Linked DNA regions of Homo sapiens. The protein of the gene in region 1 interacts with the protein of each later gene in a biochemical or structural test. Each region holds a gene or a part of one and is shown on either strand. Other genes may lie near its edges. The genes, in order: DIDO1 and TNKS2.

The links.
Region 2: the proteins of DIDO1 (region 1) and TNKS2 interact in a biophysical measurement, tested with the Homo sapiens proteins (one study listed by IntAct).

What each region holds. Positions count from the first base shown.
Region 1 is NC_000020.11:62,923,291-62,931,109, forward strand, and holds the start of DIDO1 (death-inducer obliterator 1), read right to left. Parts: upstream 3,216-7,819; 5' UTR 3,149-3,215; exon of another isoform or gene 3,142-3,148; intron 1-3,141. UniProt on the Homo sapiens protein: Putative transcription factor, weakly pro-apoptotic when overexpressed. Tumor suppressor. Required for early embryonic stem cell development.
Region 2 is NC_000010.11:91,843,283-91,851,090, reverse strand, and holds part of TNKS2 (poly [ADP-ribose] polymerase tankyrase-2), read right to left. Parts: intron 6,173-7,808; coding exon 6,063-6,172; intron 5,340-6,062; coding exon 5,151-5,339; intron 2,709-5,150; coding exon 2,456-2,708; intron 1,580-2,455; coding exon 1,497-1,579; intron 1-1,496. UniProt on the Homo sapiens protein: Poly-ADP-ribosyltransferase involved in various processes such as Wnt signaling pathway, telomere length and vesicle trafficking.

The DNA.
Region 1 (7,819 bases):
TCGGCCTCCCAAGTAGCTGGGATTACAGGCACGTACCACCACACCCAGCTAATTTTTGTATTTTTAGTTAGAGATGGGGTTTCACCATATTGGCCAGGCTGGTCTTGAACTCCTGACAAGTGATCCACCCATCTTGGCCTCCCAAAGTGCTGGGATTCCAGGCACGACCCACCATGCCCGGCCGGGAATTCTTTAAGGGTGATGAATCATCACATGCACAGCCGTGAGAAAAACTCCCTGGCACCTGAGTGAGAGCCGCAGACAAGCCGGCCAGGGCAGTGGCCACAGCCTCCAACGCATCCCGTTCACTAGTGCAAAACAGCTGTAACGTGGAGCTTTTCTGGACAGCACCCTTTCTAGTGTCTTTACTTTCTATTTTTACATAATGTTTAAGTTTCCTGTATGTGTATTACTTTTGTAATCAAACACATTAAGGTATCTTCATTTTGGAAAAAAAGTTGATTTACCTTATTATAAAGGTATATTAAGTACCACTTAAATGTCTATATCAGCATACGCAAAACAAAACCACGGCATCAAAATTTGATACCCAAGGAGAGAAATGCCTCCTTTACAACTTACACACGATTACAACCGCCTATTAAGTTTTATGGACATGGTTACAGAATTCTTATTAAAATATGTACAATTACCTATTCAACTTCATATAACAACTTAACCTCAAAATTACTACTCAAAAAATAAAATGAGGCCTAGACAACACAGACTGTCTCACAGATGACTGTGTACACGTACATGAAATGAGCAAACTGGACTTTGTTCTTTGACCTCCTCTTTCCCAATTAGTACATTTCCATTAACTGTTAATTATAGAACTTTTGTAATGCAATTAACACACATCATTTGATAGTAGTCATAAAAAGGCTGATCTTAGTATCCACTGTAAGGGACCCCGTCATTTAAATAAGAAATGTAAGTGAGAGACTCTGTTTAGAGAGAATTTTCTAGTGGTCTTCTGAGCCTGCCAGAGAGATGAGACCTCTCAGGCAAGGGCACAGTGCAGGGACCCACAGATAGTAGGGAGTCACCTGTTAAACACTTTCAATCTTAGCTCTTCAAGAGCCAAATAAGCCACTTGGTATTATGGGACAGGCATATAAAAAGGAAAAACGTGTCTTGTTTACAGAGATTCCAAACAATGAAGACGTGGCACAGCTTAAAAATAAACACTGAAGAGAAGCACCCTACTGGGCTCCACAGAACTGACCTTAAGGGAATTATGACCCTAAGGCTGTAGAAAAACTCACAGTATCAACAGCAGAACCTGCCAACTTCACCGCGAACAAAACGGGAGCCAATGCCCATTCCAATCATTTCCTCCTTACATGAAGAAACCCCAGCACCCTCCAAGGCCCAACCGATGATCCGCACGTCCTAGACAAGCCTTTGCGAGGCTCACATATGCACATGCAACATGGGCTGGGCTGTCTGGTAACCATGGGTACGGCTGGGCAGTCAATCACAAATTATCTTATTTGTGCCCTGTCTTCTCACCACAGCACAATGAGCTCTGCTTGACATAGTCTGAATTCAATCAACTACTAATAAGGGACAGCCTCTGGTGGAAAGCCTGAAAAAATTCAAGATACGCGCTTTTCCAAAACAAGAGGTATCTTATGAAACTTGCTGAAACAAGTCTACAAGAACAGACATCTCCTCCCCATGTACACAGCAAGTAGGAAAACAAGTGTGCATTAAGCAGGGAGTTTCACAACAGGGCTGTGTCTGTCTTCCTGGGTGACACTTCTGAGATGTCTATGCCGTATTTAAAATAGTGAAATAGTCACAGACACACATACACTAACAGCAACCCAAAGGGCCACTAAAGAGCCCTAGGCTCCAGGTAAACGAGTTGGCAACACCTGATTTAAAGGAAGGAGCTGGAATAATCTCTCAAGTTCCCCAGTGAACTTGTCTCCAGGACTGGGACAGGGGCCACCTTGGTCACTGCTGTATCCCTCGTGCTAACAGTAAGCAATGAATGCTCATTTAAAAAAAGACTGTATTTACTCCTTAAAAGGCACTGCTAAGGACCTTTCTCAGAACTGTATTTCAACCAAGTCATATGTGGCCCTACGGAAACCATGGAACACGGGGTATATAGCAAAGTTATGTGAATATACCGAAAAGACGTTCCCATCTGCCTTTCCCTCCTCTAAGTCCCTGAGTACACTAGGCTCAAATCTCATTCCATCAGCAGACAGATGACACGGATATCGAAGGCCCAGGCACAAGTTAAAGAGTATTTTCAATAACTGGTAACGCAGTAAGCTACTGCTACCTGTGGCCCAAACTCTAAACTTATATATTAAAGTCCTTTATTTAGAGCAGAAAAGCCGGCCTTGACCTCCACTGTCTCAGAACCGCGAGAAGGAGCCCCGGACGCCGCAGCGGAGGCAGCACGAGCACCCCTCCCGCCGAGCGCAAGAGCGGGCCCTTTCGGCTTCCGGGGTCACTGGAAGGCAAAATGTGTCACAAATACGGCCAGTACAAACCAACGCAACAAACTATTCCACAAAAAAACTGAAAACCAGCGCGGGGAGGTAAGGACACACTCTTCAGAAAAGCGAATCCGGGCTCTTCGCGCTTCCTGCAGCGCCAGCCGCCCCTGCAGTGCCGGAATCCCCCGAAGGCACGCCAGAAGCTAAGCCGGCCACCCCGACCGCACCCAAGGCCCGGGAGGAAGCGCCGAGGTCCCCGAGAATGCCTAGGGAAACCAGCTGCGCTTACAAGCCAGCTACGCAGCCCCCGAGCCCCGGGCCGCACTCGCCCAGGCCAGCCCTGCGCTCTTCCCCGCGAGCGGCCGCCCCGACTCCCACCCTCGGAACCGTTCCAGCCGCGACCACCGAGTGCTCGCCAGTCCCCTCGACCTCACGCAGCCCACCAGGGCCGGCGTCTGAGGCCCGCGCCCCAGGCCGCGGCGGCTCTGACCGGCCCCGCCCGCTCGCCCGCCCGCCCGCCCGCTCCTTCCCTTCCGCGGCCGCCATCTTCTCGGCGGGAGCGGCCTGTGCGGGATCCGCGGCTCTCGCCAGCCGGGCTCCGATGCCGGCCCCGCCCCGCTCCCGAGGGCGGCCCAAGCGGCGGCCGGCTCTTCTACCCGGCGCCCGGGACGCCACTTACCGCAGGCCGCAGGCCTCTAGGGTCTCGCAGCCATTTCCCCGAACGCCGCGGAGTGGGCGGACGGCCACCGAGATGGCGCGGGGCTAGAGCGGCGCCCCCGCGCGGCGGGCGGAGGACGAGACCGGCCACCGAGACGCTGCGGGGCTAGAGCGGAGCCCGGGCTGCGAAGCCCGGCCCCGGACTGCGCGCATGCGCCCGTCTTTCATACCTGCACTCCGGACGCGCCCTTCGGGTCTGCACTGACAATGACTTGCTTGCATCCTTTGTGGACACCTTATTTCCCCGACTCCAAGAGTGAAAGCTGGGGCAGTGCCCTTGCGGGGATCCCTCGGAACAGCCCGGGCAGGGCGCAGGCGGAACGTGGATGCTAGCCCCGAGGGACTGCACTCCGCCAGGATTTCGCTCTTAAGACCGATAAACCCTTCAAGTCGGTGGGGATAGAAAGCTCCTGGGCTAAATTTGTAAGAGGTGTAGGGGGGCGGGGACAGGGGATAAAAGAAGAAAAGGCCCAGGTTTTCTCTTCCAGATTGTGTTTCTCAAAACGCAGGCCCCTGACGGCCTCGGCTGGGAATGGCAGCGAGGGGCGAGGTCCAGGTGTGGGCGGGGTTTCTCTCCAACTTGAAGACCCTACCTGCTGCCTCCCCACCCCAAGCTCGGCTCCAGAAACCAGGAGCGTGGGGGTGGGGGGGAGAGAAAGGAGCACAGCGAGGAAGGGAGGCGGGCACGCTGGACCTCTAGGCCCCAGGGACCTTGGCGGTGTGGTCCCAAAGCTCTGCCTCCTCCCACCATGTCAATCCTACACTCAGAACTACTGACCAGTAGCTAGAACTCAAAGAACGCATGGACATGTTTGCCCACAGGGGTTGGAGGGAAAGATTAGACACTTACTATCAAGAGAGGGGAAAGTGAGGTATGGTAGATGTCAACCTTCCATGTGGATTTTCTTCAGTTCGCTCAATAGTAACTAGAGTGACACTCTATCACCTGTCTGTCCCCAGATACTGCAGGAAAGAGACTGGGAGGGGGCAGGAGGGGCAGCTGTTGCCTCGAGGCACCATGGGCACTGGCCACTTGCTCCGAGGGCAGGGACCTGGGGGGGGTGGAGGTGGCCCCATTACTTGTTTCTGCTTCTGTGAACAGTGATACGCTACCTGGAAGCATGGACCATCTAGCCTTTGGCGTTGGCCCTGGCCAAGAGTAAAAGGGGCCCAGAGTGCCGTAAAGCTGCCCCTAATACAGAGGCTTCTGCGATGCTTCCATGGATGAACCAGGGGCTTTGAGGCAGGTGTGCTTTTTAATAATACCGCTGAAGATTACAGGGTCTGCTAGTTTCTGAGGCAGACTTAGTTTTCTTCAAAGGAATACAACGCAGCTTGTTTTTGCTGGTGTGGCCCATTAGGACCACATTAATAGAATCTGGCAGGGATGGGCTTGACAGTCTTCCATCTTGAGTGTGATCTCAGGTTGCAAAGAGGGCTTTTTGCTCTCAGACATGGGGTAGTGGGAAGCTTAGAAGACAGACGGGGTTGAGACCACCTTTAACAAGCAGTGAGATCTTGGGCAAGCTCTCTGTTAAAGGAGGGCTCACATGCTGAGGCCCAGGTGAAGACCACATGAGGCCTCCCTACAAGAGGCTCTCTCTAAATCCAACTGGTATGGGGGAACCTCAGCCCAGTCTCTTTAGCTGAGGATCTTTAAACCAGCCACAATTTGTTTCTGCAAGACGGTGAGATTTTTAAGAGATTTTAACTCTTGGGTACAGTTTCACGCTGGGCACTCAGGAGAGATAGATGGAAAGGCACTAAGGGAATAGAAAGAGTGGACAAGGCGGCTCAGGGACAAGAGAACCAAGAGGAAGAAAAAGGCAGGAAAACATGAGGAAAGGGAACCCTCACTCAGCTCACCGCAGTGCTCAGCGATACGCAGAATGCCTTCCTTCCTGCAAGTCCAGAGGATACTGGAACCTGCCTCTCGTTCTCATCTCCCCCGCCCCCCAGCAGAAGCTGGCTCGGCTGTGGAGGCCTGGCCAGACTATCCACTCTGGCCTTCCCCACCTACAAGGTGACGAAGTCAGCTTTATCCCAGCTTACCTGCCGTCACTATTCCTGGGAGCTGCCCTCCCTGGTGAGAAAGGCATTTGGAGAATCTACAGTCTGGGTATTTGAATTTGAACTCCACTAGCAAAAGAATACTTTTTCCTAACCGAATTTATTTTAAAAGTAAAACCCAAAGGAGGAAACAAACTCTTCAGTTGTTTCAATAAATTGTTCCTTAAATATCCCCAATTCACAAACAAAACCCCACAAGTAGCACCGATTTACAACAGGATGTGGCCCAGAAAGCAGGAAGGGGGCCAAGAGCGCTCCAGCAGGAAGCTTAATAGGTGGTCCATGGAGAAAAACACGATGGGTGCATCACAAATAGGTGTAAACAGTACACTTTTGTAATGTGTAGACACCAGTTTCTGCAACCCCCATGCCACGCAAAGTTTCAGGGAAAGTCTTTGAAAGTACAATCCGGAAAACTCAGCAATTCTTAAAAAAAAATGGCTTTCCGCTGTTATAAGCCTCCTTCCTAAGACTCAGGGTCCGCAGCAGAATACCCTGACCCAAAATAAAAATACTATGACAAAAATACTCCAGGAGGCAGCCGGCTTTACTTCGTTTAAAGCCGGATTTCGCTTAGTCCCGTGAAAGCGAAGGAGCACCAGCGCTTCCTGATTCCGCACAGTTCTCTCGGCAGAGACGGCCCGTCCTCTCCAAGAACCGGAAGCCGGACAGCGTCAGGACGTTTTATTCTTCTCACCTGGGATTCAGAGAGGCAGCGGCCAAGGACAGGGCCCCCGCCGAGGCCACCGGGCAGCGTCCAGGTCTCGGCCTTTGGGAGGGGAGCAGCGGGGGAGGGGCACGGGGAGGGGCGAGGGCGGGGCGCGCCTGGGCCTCGGCGCTGGGCTCCTCCTCTGCCCGCTCCGGGGGACACCCACAGGATTCTTGCAGACCTCTGCCGAGGCAGGATGGAGGCCTGCAGGGATGCACCGCGGGCCCGCGACCCGGGCGGCCGGAACATAGTTCTTTCTGGCCGGAGATCGGCCCGGTCGTGAGTCGTGTCTGTGCCAGGCCCCCCACGCTGTGCTCCAGGGCCTCAGTGCCCGGCGCGCCGGGGGCTGTATCGCCAGCCACTTGGGGCAGGAAAAAGGAATCACAAAATACAACCCTCTCCTTTACCCAGGAGGAGAACGTGGATTCCCAGAAAAAAGAAAAAGTGTATATATATATATATATGCCTACTGTTTTCTTATTGCTAACAAAAACTTCAGCCACTGTTTTGTTTTTTTTTTTTGAGAAACTGATGAATTTTCTTTACTTTTACGTTGTATAAGGCCAGCTAACTTTAACAGTTAATTTTAGATAAATCAACTCACCAATGCTAAAAGGTGTCACAATCAAATCGTCCACTACTTCCCCTCAAAGCAAACACGAAAGCACTGCCTTTGGCTCCTTTGAAGAATACTAACCAGATCTGCCAGGCGCGGTGGTTCAAGCCTGTTCCCAGCACTTAGGTAGGCCGAGGTGGGTGGATCGCCTGAGGTCCTGAGGTTAGGAGTTCAAGACCAGCCTGACCAACATGGTGAAACCCCATCTCTACTAAAAATACAAAAATTAGCCGGGCGTGGTGGCAGGCGCCTGTAATCCCAGCTACTCGGGAGGCTAAGGTAGGAGAATCGCTTGAACCCGCTGCACTCCAGCCTGGGTGACAGCGAGACTCCGTCTCAAAGAAACAAACAAACAAAAAAAAAAAAAACACAGATCTTTGTCTACCAAAGGGCAAATGCTACGTTTGTGCATCACTGAGTAACAGCACTGCCAGAAAAGGCAACTTCACAGAATTCACCCACTCAATGAATTCCGCTGAATGCTGTTTTGAGACAACCAACACAGAGGGAGAGCATGGACGATAGTGGGTAACATAAGGGGAACCGGCAAGATGGAAAAGGGCCAGGAAACAAAAGAATTCAAGGAAAAACAGAAACAGAAGTTAAACTTTGTGTTCCAACCCCAAAGACCTCTAGAAAGCTGTGGGATGTGATGGAGCTACACGTTCTATGCGGCATATGAGAATCATACCAATTTTCTGTCTTTTAGACAAAAGAATAAATGTGAAATAGGAAAAAGGGAGGGAAATGAGATGGGAGGAGGGCATCACCCCCTTTAATGCTGTACCAAATTACTATACAAACTGAATTGTTGTAATTAGAATTATGGACAGTGTCTTATCATTTGTATGTTACCAGAAACCTGTGCTATGACTTTTAACTAGAAAAACAACAAGGGATGATGGATCTTTCTTTGGTCACATTAGCCTCTGTAAGTTACTCAAGACAGCTGCAATGAACTGACAACAATATCCACAAACAAGGCAAAAGGAACTTCTCATGGCAGGGAACTGAATCTGGATGTTATTCTCAGTTCTGTCATTTTCCAGATACCTTTAGAAAGAATGAGCTGCAGTTTGTGTTGTTGTTTTCCTTGAGACAAGGTCTCACCCTGTTGCCAGGCTGGAGTGCAGTAGTGTGATCTTGGCTGTCTGCAACCTCTGCCTCCCAGGCTCAAGCAACCCTCCTGCCTCACCCTCCCGAGTAGCTGGGACTACAGGTGCATGCCACCACAACTGGCTAGTT
Region 2 (7,808 bases), on another chromosome or scaffold:
TTATTTCCATTTAGCATAAGAACCTGAGCAGAACTAAAACGCAAAACAAAAAGGCACTTTCAAATTAACCACATTCAGGTATTCTATTTTATCTTTTCCATAATACTTTTCTACCATCACTCTACATCCAACCCTATTTATATAATGTCTTTCAATGGTTCCTGCTGAGTCTGGACTATGCCAAGTGGTACTTCTGCATCACTGTTCAAAGTAACCCTTTTACCTTTAATACAGTAATACACTATGGCTTCATGAAATTGAAGCCATTCTTTAAAATCCTGTTTTACTTACACACGTTCCATGAAGCATTCCCTGATGAGCCTAGCTCACGGTAATCCTTTCCTTCTTCAAATTTCTGTTTTTTTATTTTTGAGACGGAGTTTCACTCTCGTTGCCAAGGCTGGAGTGCAAAAGTGCAATCTCAGCTCACTGCAACCTCTGCCTCCCGGGTTCAAGCGATTCTCCTGCCTCAGCCTCCTGAGTAGCTGGGATTACAGGTGCCCGCCACCACGCCCAGCTAATTTTTTGTATTTTTAGTAGGGAAGAGTTTCACTATATTGGCCAGGCTGGTCTTGAACTCCTGACCTCAGGTGATCCACCCGCCTCAGCCTCCCAAAGTGCTGGGATTACAGGCATGAGCCACCGTGCCTGGCTCCCTTCTACAAATTTCTAAAATCTATGCTAAAACTTGAATTTTCATATGTTCTTTTTTTTTTTTTTTTTGAGACCGAGTCTTGCTCTGTTGCCGAGGCTGGAGTGCAGTGGTGTGATCTTGGCTCACTGCAACCTCTGCTTCCCGGGTTCAAGCAATTCTTTGCCTCAGCCTCCCGAGTAGGTGGGATTATAGGTGCCTGCCACCATGCCTGGCTAATTTCTTTGTATTTTTAGTAGAGACGGGGGTTTCACCATCTTGGCCAGGCTGGTCTTGAACTCCTGACCTCAAGTGATCCACCCACCTCGGCCTCCCAAAGTGCTGGGATTACAGGCGTGAGCCACTGCACCCGGCCATATGTTCTTATTCTAATTCCATAACTACAATGAAAGTCCCTTAGAGTGCAAATCTACAGTAACATTATTTTCTGAACAACAACAAAAATCAGTAAATGTATTCTGACAGAGTACTTTAAACTGAGACTGCTTAGAAAAGCCCAGATATGGCTGGCATATTCATATACCTTCCCATAGCAGCTAGAAAAGTGTCAGGCTTGAGAGAGAACTGAATAGACAGTGCTCAAGGATAACTTACTTCAAGAACTGAATAAGCTAAACTTTCCATTCAAGAAAGCTACTTTACCATTACTACTCGAGTCAACTGTGTGCGAATAAACTAAATGGAAGTTTCAAGGTCAAGCCAAATTAGAAGGCTGACTGATGTCATTTCTTAAAAAACATTCTCCCCCAATAGCTTACATGGTTCAGCTCATTTCAAGTATGTTCCAAATTTTCCTTGAGTTTCCATAAAACACTAATCCAAACAATATGATTTATCTACTCACCTGTTCTCTCTCAAATATATCCATTAGGTGCTCAAGTCCAAGATTCCTTACGAATTGAGTTATGCTAAAATCTACTCCTGGAACTGGGAAATAAAAAAATCCAAAACAAATGGAATTTCACATCAGAATAATGTATTTCATCACTATAACAGTAAAGTCTTGTAATGTTACTATATATGAAGAAAATAATATTAATAGCCACTTAGGATATAATACTGAACAAGAGAAAGCTACAAAATTTCAACATTAGAAAAAAGCTAATCAATGGGGCAGTCTCAGTACTCTCATTTTTATTTTAAACTTTGTTTTTAATTGCATCTATATTTTTAAAACCAGTTTTCCTATCTTTCAGGATGTAAGCTACTTCACAAAAAAGTTTATGAAAACAAGCTCCACACTGTTGCATAAGGTGGGATGAATTTTAACAGAAAAGGTTTACATCTAAAGAGCAGATTAAGGGCGGGGGGCGGTGGCTCACGCCTATAATCCCAGCACTTTGGGAGGCCGAGGCGGGTGGATCACCTGAGGTCAGGAGTTCAAGACCAGTCTGGCCAAAATGGTGAAATCCCATCTCTACTAAAACTACAAAAATTAGCCGGGCATGGTGGTGGGTGCCTGCAATTTCAGCTACTCGGGAGGCTGAGGCAGGAGCATTGCTTAAACCCTTGAGGCAGAGGTTGCAGTGAGCCGAGATCGCGCCACTGCACTCCAGTCTGGGCGACAAAAGCAGAACTCCATCTCAAAAATAAATAAATAAATAGTAGGTTAGTAGCACAAGACTCTTCAACTGTCAACTTGGAAGGAAGAAAGTAATACAAGGTTAAACCTTTTTAAGGCTATGTTAACTAATTTTATACTAATACCTTGTATTTAAGGTTAAAAATGACTTTTTAGCATCCCAAATGACAAATACGGGGCTACAATACCAGTTAGAAAGTTATTTTTGTAGAACGTCTCACCCTCCTTTTTCTCCAAACTGGAAGCACCCTCTGTTCCACTTGAACTAACTACTGAAGACAGTTCTGAAAAACTCCCAGATAAGTTGTCAAGACTGCTGGCTGCAGAAAGGCTTGATGGGCTAGATGGACCTGAAGAGAGAGCATCTGCAGTGGCTCCTGGGCTTCTCACACCATTGAGCACTTGAGGCTTGTAACAAGAGGGCAGAGCAGATGGGGGCATGGCTGCTGTCAGAAGAGCGCTGACATCATCCGCCTAGGGTACGTGTCAGAGACAACATCTGCCATAAGCAAGTTTTAAAATGCTATTATACCTAATAAAATATATTTAAAAATATGAGAAAACCCAGCAATTTGTGCCAGTACTATCACAATGGAGGATTATTCATTTTAAAAAGTGAAGCAAACAGGTTAATACAGGTCAAACATCCCAAATCTGAAAATTTTAAAATGTTGACGTGAAGCTCAAAGGAAATGTTTATTGGAGCATTTTGGATTTCAGATTTGGGGATCGGGGATGCTCAACAGTAAGTATAATGCTTGAGTATAATATTTCAAAATCTGAAAAAAATATCCAAAAGCCGAAAACACATCTGGTTCTAAGCATTTCCGATAAGGGATATTCAACCTGTATCCAGCTAAACTGTTATTAAAATATAAGACATAACTGAGAACATCTCTTCCAAAACACATATTGTCAAAATATAATTTAAATATGGCAAAGCATGAACAAAACCCTAATTCTGATACTGTGACTGAGAAGCACAACGAATTACAGAAATATCAATTTTAAAAGGTAAGAGATTTTAGTCCTATTGTAGTTACTCTGAAAGAAGTAATTCAACCTACACAGAACTTTAGCAAACTGAATTGTTTGTATTTCCTGGAAAATATTCAGCAATGTATTTGTTCCTTAAAACTGAAAGTTTTTTGGAGAGGAGGTGGGTAGAAAAGATAATCATTTTAATCAAATCTGCTAGAATGGGGCCAGGTGCAGTGGCTTATGCCTGTAATCCCAGCACTTTGGGAGGCCGAGGTGGGTCGATCACTTGAGGTCAGCCTGGCCAACATGGTGAAACCCCATTTCTACTGAAAATACAAAAATTATTAGCTGGGTGTGGTGGCGCATGCCTGTAATTCCAGCTACTCGGGAGGCTGAGGCAGCAGAATCATTTGAACCTGGGAGGCGGAGGTTGCAGTGAGCCCAGATTGTGCCACTGCACTACAGTCTGGGTGACAGAGTGAGACTTCCATCTCAAAAAAATAATAATAAATAAAAATTAAAAAAAATCTGCTAGAATGGAAAAAAGTCCTCACATTTATTGGTACATTAATTTGTTTAATTTGTAATATGTACTCTTCTTTCACAACGTTCAACTAATGTTCAGCAAGGAATAAATTAGTACTTGTTTCATAGTCATTTGTTCTGACTATTCCAGTCATCACCTTTCTCTTCCCCCAGTCTATGCATTCCCATTGCACTCACAATTTGTAAATGACATTTGTTTATAATAATAGTACCATTTATTGAGTGCTTTTTATGTACCTGATACCATGCCAAAGACTTTAAGTAAATTACCCCATTTAATTCTCATACTAACCAGATATATTTTACCTCTATCTATAGATGAGGTAACTAAGGTTTAGAGGTTAGGCAGTTCATAAGATTGTACAACTTAAATCGTGCAGCTGGAATTCTAGGCCCAGTCTGTCTGACTCTAAAGCCCCTGTATGTTCTCTACAGCATTTTGCTTCATTGTAACTTAATTGTATCTGGTCAACTAACATATGGGTGGAATGAATTCCAAATGTTCACTTTTAAGGTAACTTGGAACTAGAAAGATATTTCCCTGAAGAGATAATGTTGTAAATATGGCTGGGTTGTTAGCTGACTGAGAAAAACCTACTTAAGCACCAATGCAGCTGAACTACCTCAGTTTCTTATTGTAATGTGGAACAATGTAATCTTTCTCAGTAGAAAGCAGTCTGCAGAAAAGATTCCCCTTCCTTCTCATCTCAAAAAGAATTCCTTCCTCCTTTCTTTCCACTGCTCTAGTCAATGTCCTCAGTGGTAGAGGCAAGAGAGGCATCTGCTTCAGTGCCCAAAGCAGAGGTGGAAGGTTCAGTGGAAGCTCCTACACCTGCTCCATGCTCTGGAGAGAGGGGAAGGAAAACAGGACCTCCACAGGAAAGTGGATAATAGACTTGTTTCATGAACAGTTAAGGTAGGGTGAGCAACAAGAACTCTGGGATGAGGCAGTGTGGGAGGAAAAGGAATCTCTACTGGCAGCAGGGTTTGTGGCTGCACCTTGGGGGGCAATGTTCCCAGTTGGGGCCGTGTGTAAGACCCATGGTCTGTACCATCTGCGCTGTATGCACTATAAGTAACAGCATTTTCTGAGGGCCTGGGTCTGTTTAGTTTCCTAACTAACGTAAGCAGTTATATCATGTACTTCTTTTTCCTATTTCCAAAATACTCAGTATATAATAACTGATTGATAATTCTATTCTACAGAAGGATAATTATATTACTTTATAATTCTATTATATTTTAATACTAAAGAACTCTTACATTAAAATCAGGCTAAAACCCAGATTTTGCCATTCACATTGACTATAAAGACATTTTATAATAACATCAAGTGAATTTTAACAAGTCAGAAAAGCACTGAGATTTTTCAAAAAGCCCATCACTTACTGAAACTAAATCTAAAGGTGTTTGTCCTTCCTGATTTTTAAGAGTCGGGTCAGCTCCATGGGCTAGCAACAAAGCACAAAGCTGTGTTCGTCCCTTTTGGGCTGCTTCGTGCAAAGGTGTGAAAGCCCATTTGTCCGTGGCATTGACACATGCATTATACTTTATTAGTAGAGCTGCTACATCTACATGCTGTAAAAGAAAATACCCGTTACAGTCTGAAATATTATTTTGTCACACTTTACTTTCTTAAAATGAAACTAGTTACGTACCTACTTCCACATTTTCAAACTTATTCTGGAAATGAAAAGAAAAACTCTTTCTCCCCAACATCACAACTTATGAGTAGCTGATTAAAAATTACAGTGGACATTTCAATAACTTGAGAAACTATCTAGAAAAGAGTTAAGAATTCTATTTAGCAGGAAACTAGACTAATATGACTTCAATAATTTCTAATTTATTCAAATGTTATAACTACTAAATGTCAATTTATAAAGCAGCAATCTTCCTCAATTATTCAAACTATACCATTGAAGATGGTCAATTTTGAATGTCACATTGGACTATGATAAGTCAGGAACAATGCATCTGAATCTGTACAGATTCCATCTACCCCGTTGGTGCCCCAGTGGATTTTCTGGGTACCAACAAATAAACACAATCACCAACATCTCACTGAAAATAAGAGACAGGTGTTAAGGCAGATAATAAAACAAACAACAATACACCGCATATCACACAGCAAGCTTAGAACAGATTCAGAACCGAAATTTGGAAGTTATTTAACTTCTTTAGCTCTGCCACTTACTTCTCTGTAAAATGAGAACATCAAACTACATTCCATTTGAGCTGCAATACTGACTTTCACTTTAAAATTCCACAAATTTTTAAAGGTAACACGGAAGAACTTACCCCGTAAGATGCTGCATTATGTAAAGGAATAAGTCCTCCTTTGTCTTGGGCATTCACATCAGCTCCGTGTTGTAACAAATACTCTGCAACTTCTAAATTATTATAACCAGCTAATTTAGAAAAGAAGTAAAATTACTTTACTTGTTTTTTCTTTTTTAGTCCTATGTCATAATACTTCCACTTGTTAACATAAAAAAGTCATTACATGTATACATATATATATGTATTTATAAGGCATAGACATTACTGAAAACATAAAAAAAGAGATTTTGTATAAATCTGAAATAGCTCATTGGACTCTATTAACAATTTACCTTCTGGAAAACATTTCCCCCTTGCCTCAAGTTGGAAGCTTTTTGTGTTATCAATTAGCTTTGTAGATTCCCAAAATTATATTGACTGATTTGCTTGTATCTTTCCTATGAAAACCTTCCTACCAAAGTCTCTGCCTTCATGGGTGTTACATACCACTTCTTGAACTCAGGTACATGGGTCTCAGAGGCTGCAAGTCAAAGGTCTGCAATCACATACAAGTCAAACCAGAGTGGGCCTCAGAGTCCTCTTCCCCAGAAGGCCACAAGAGCATGCTTTTTTGCTAGAGAGAACTCAGAGGTACACATCTCTGCAAGTCTAGTAGAGGAACTTAGGTGCTGTTAAAGCCATGAAATAAAACTTATTTCTATTATAGTTTTTATCCTTTTGCTAAAGGATTTAAAGCAAAAGAATTTAAAAAGATCAAGTAAAGAAGAATACAATTATAAAACTACCATAAAATATTACATTAATCTAAAAGTCTTTCTAGGTCTCAAGGTATGGTATTTAACGCTGCAGAAGTGGACAGAAATATTTTATGCATACAAATTATTTGTGACTTACAAAGACAACTTGGACACAGTAATGTTAAGTGTTCTAGATAGGCTACAAGAAAGATATAAAAGCTAACATAAATATGCACAGCACAACTTCCAATCAAAGGTCAAGTCATATTTTGTCTTGCATGGACTAGAAACTCCTGATAGCCAGTGGAAGTAAAGCTTTTTCTCACCATGTTAGCATTTGTGGCTTATCACTTCCAAAATACTTGAAAGACACATAGAGTAATTGGTTTCTTTGGACAGTGAGGTCTCAACTTACATGGAGTGAGAATTTAAAGGTAAAAATCATGTATAACACCAAGTTATAATACAAGACTGAAATGAACATCATACATTTCCATCTCCCACATTACACGAAATGGCAGAAATTTTGCATTATTTTTTCTTGCTTTTTATACCATGTTTAAATCATGTATATTTAGACAAACTTGTATGAGTCCGCTGTGTCTATGATGGAACTCCACTGAGGTATTAGCTATAGCTCAGTGATTTTAATGATTTCCTAACATCTGTAATGCAGCTGAAAAAGCTGTACTGAAACCACAATATATTGTATATTTGCACTGAAAACAAAGGTACACTGTGCCAGTTTTATGAGTGAAACCTTAAAACAAATGTCACGAAATGAATTGTACCCTGCAAAATTCTTATGTTGAAGCCCTAACCCCAGTACCTTAGAATATGACTCTATTTGGAGACAGAGCCTTTAAAGAGCTAAAAAAGTTAAAATGAGCCCATTAGGGTGGGCTCTAATCTAATTTGACTGGTTTCCTTAAAAGTAGAGACTAGGACATATAGAAAGAGACACCATGTTCCAATGGAGGACACACTGAGAAGGTAGACAGCTGCAAGCCAAGAGGGGGTTTCAGAA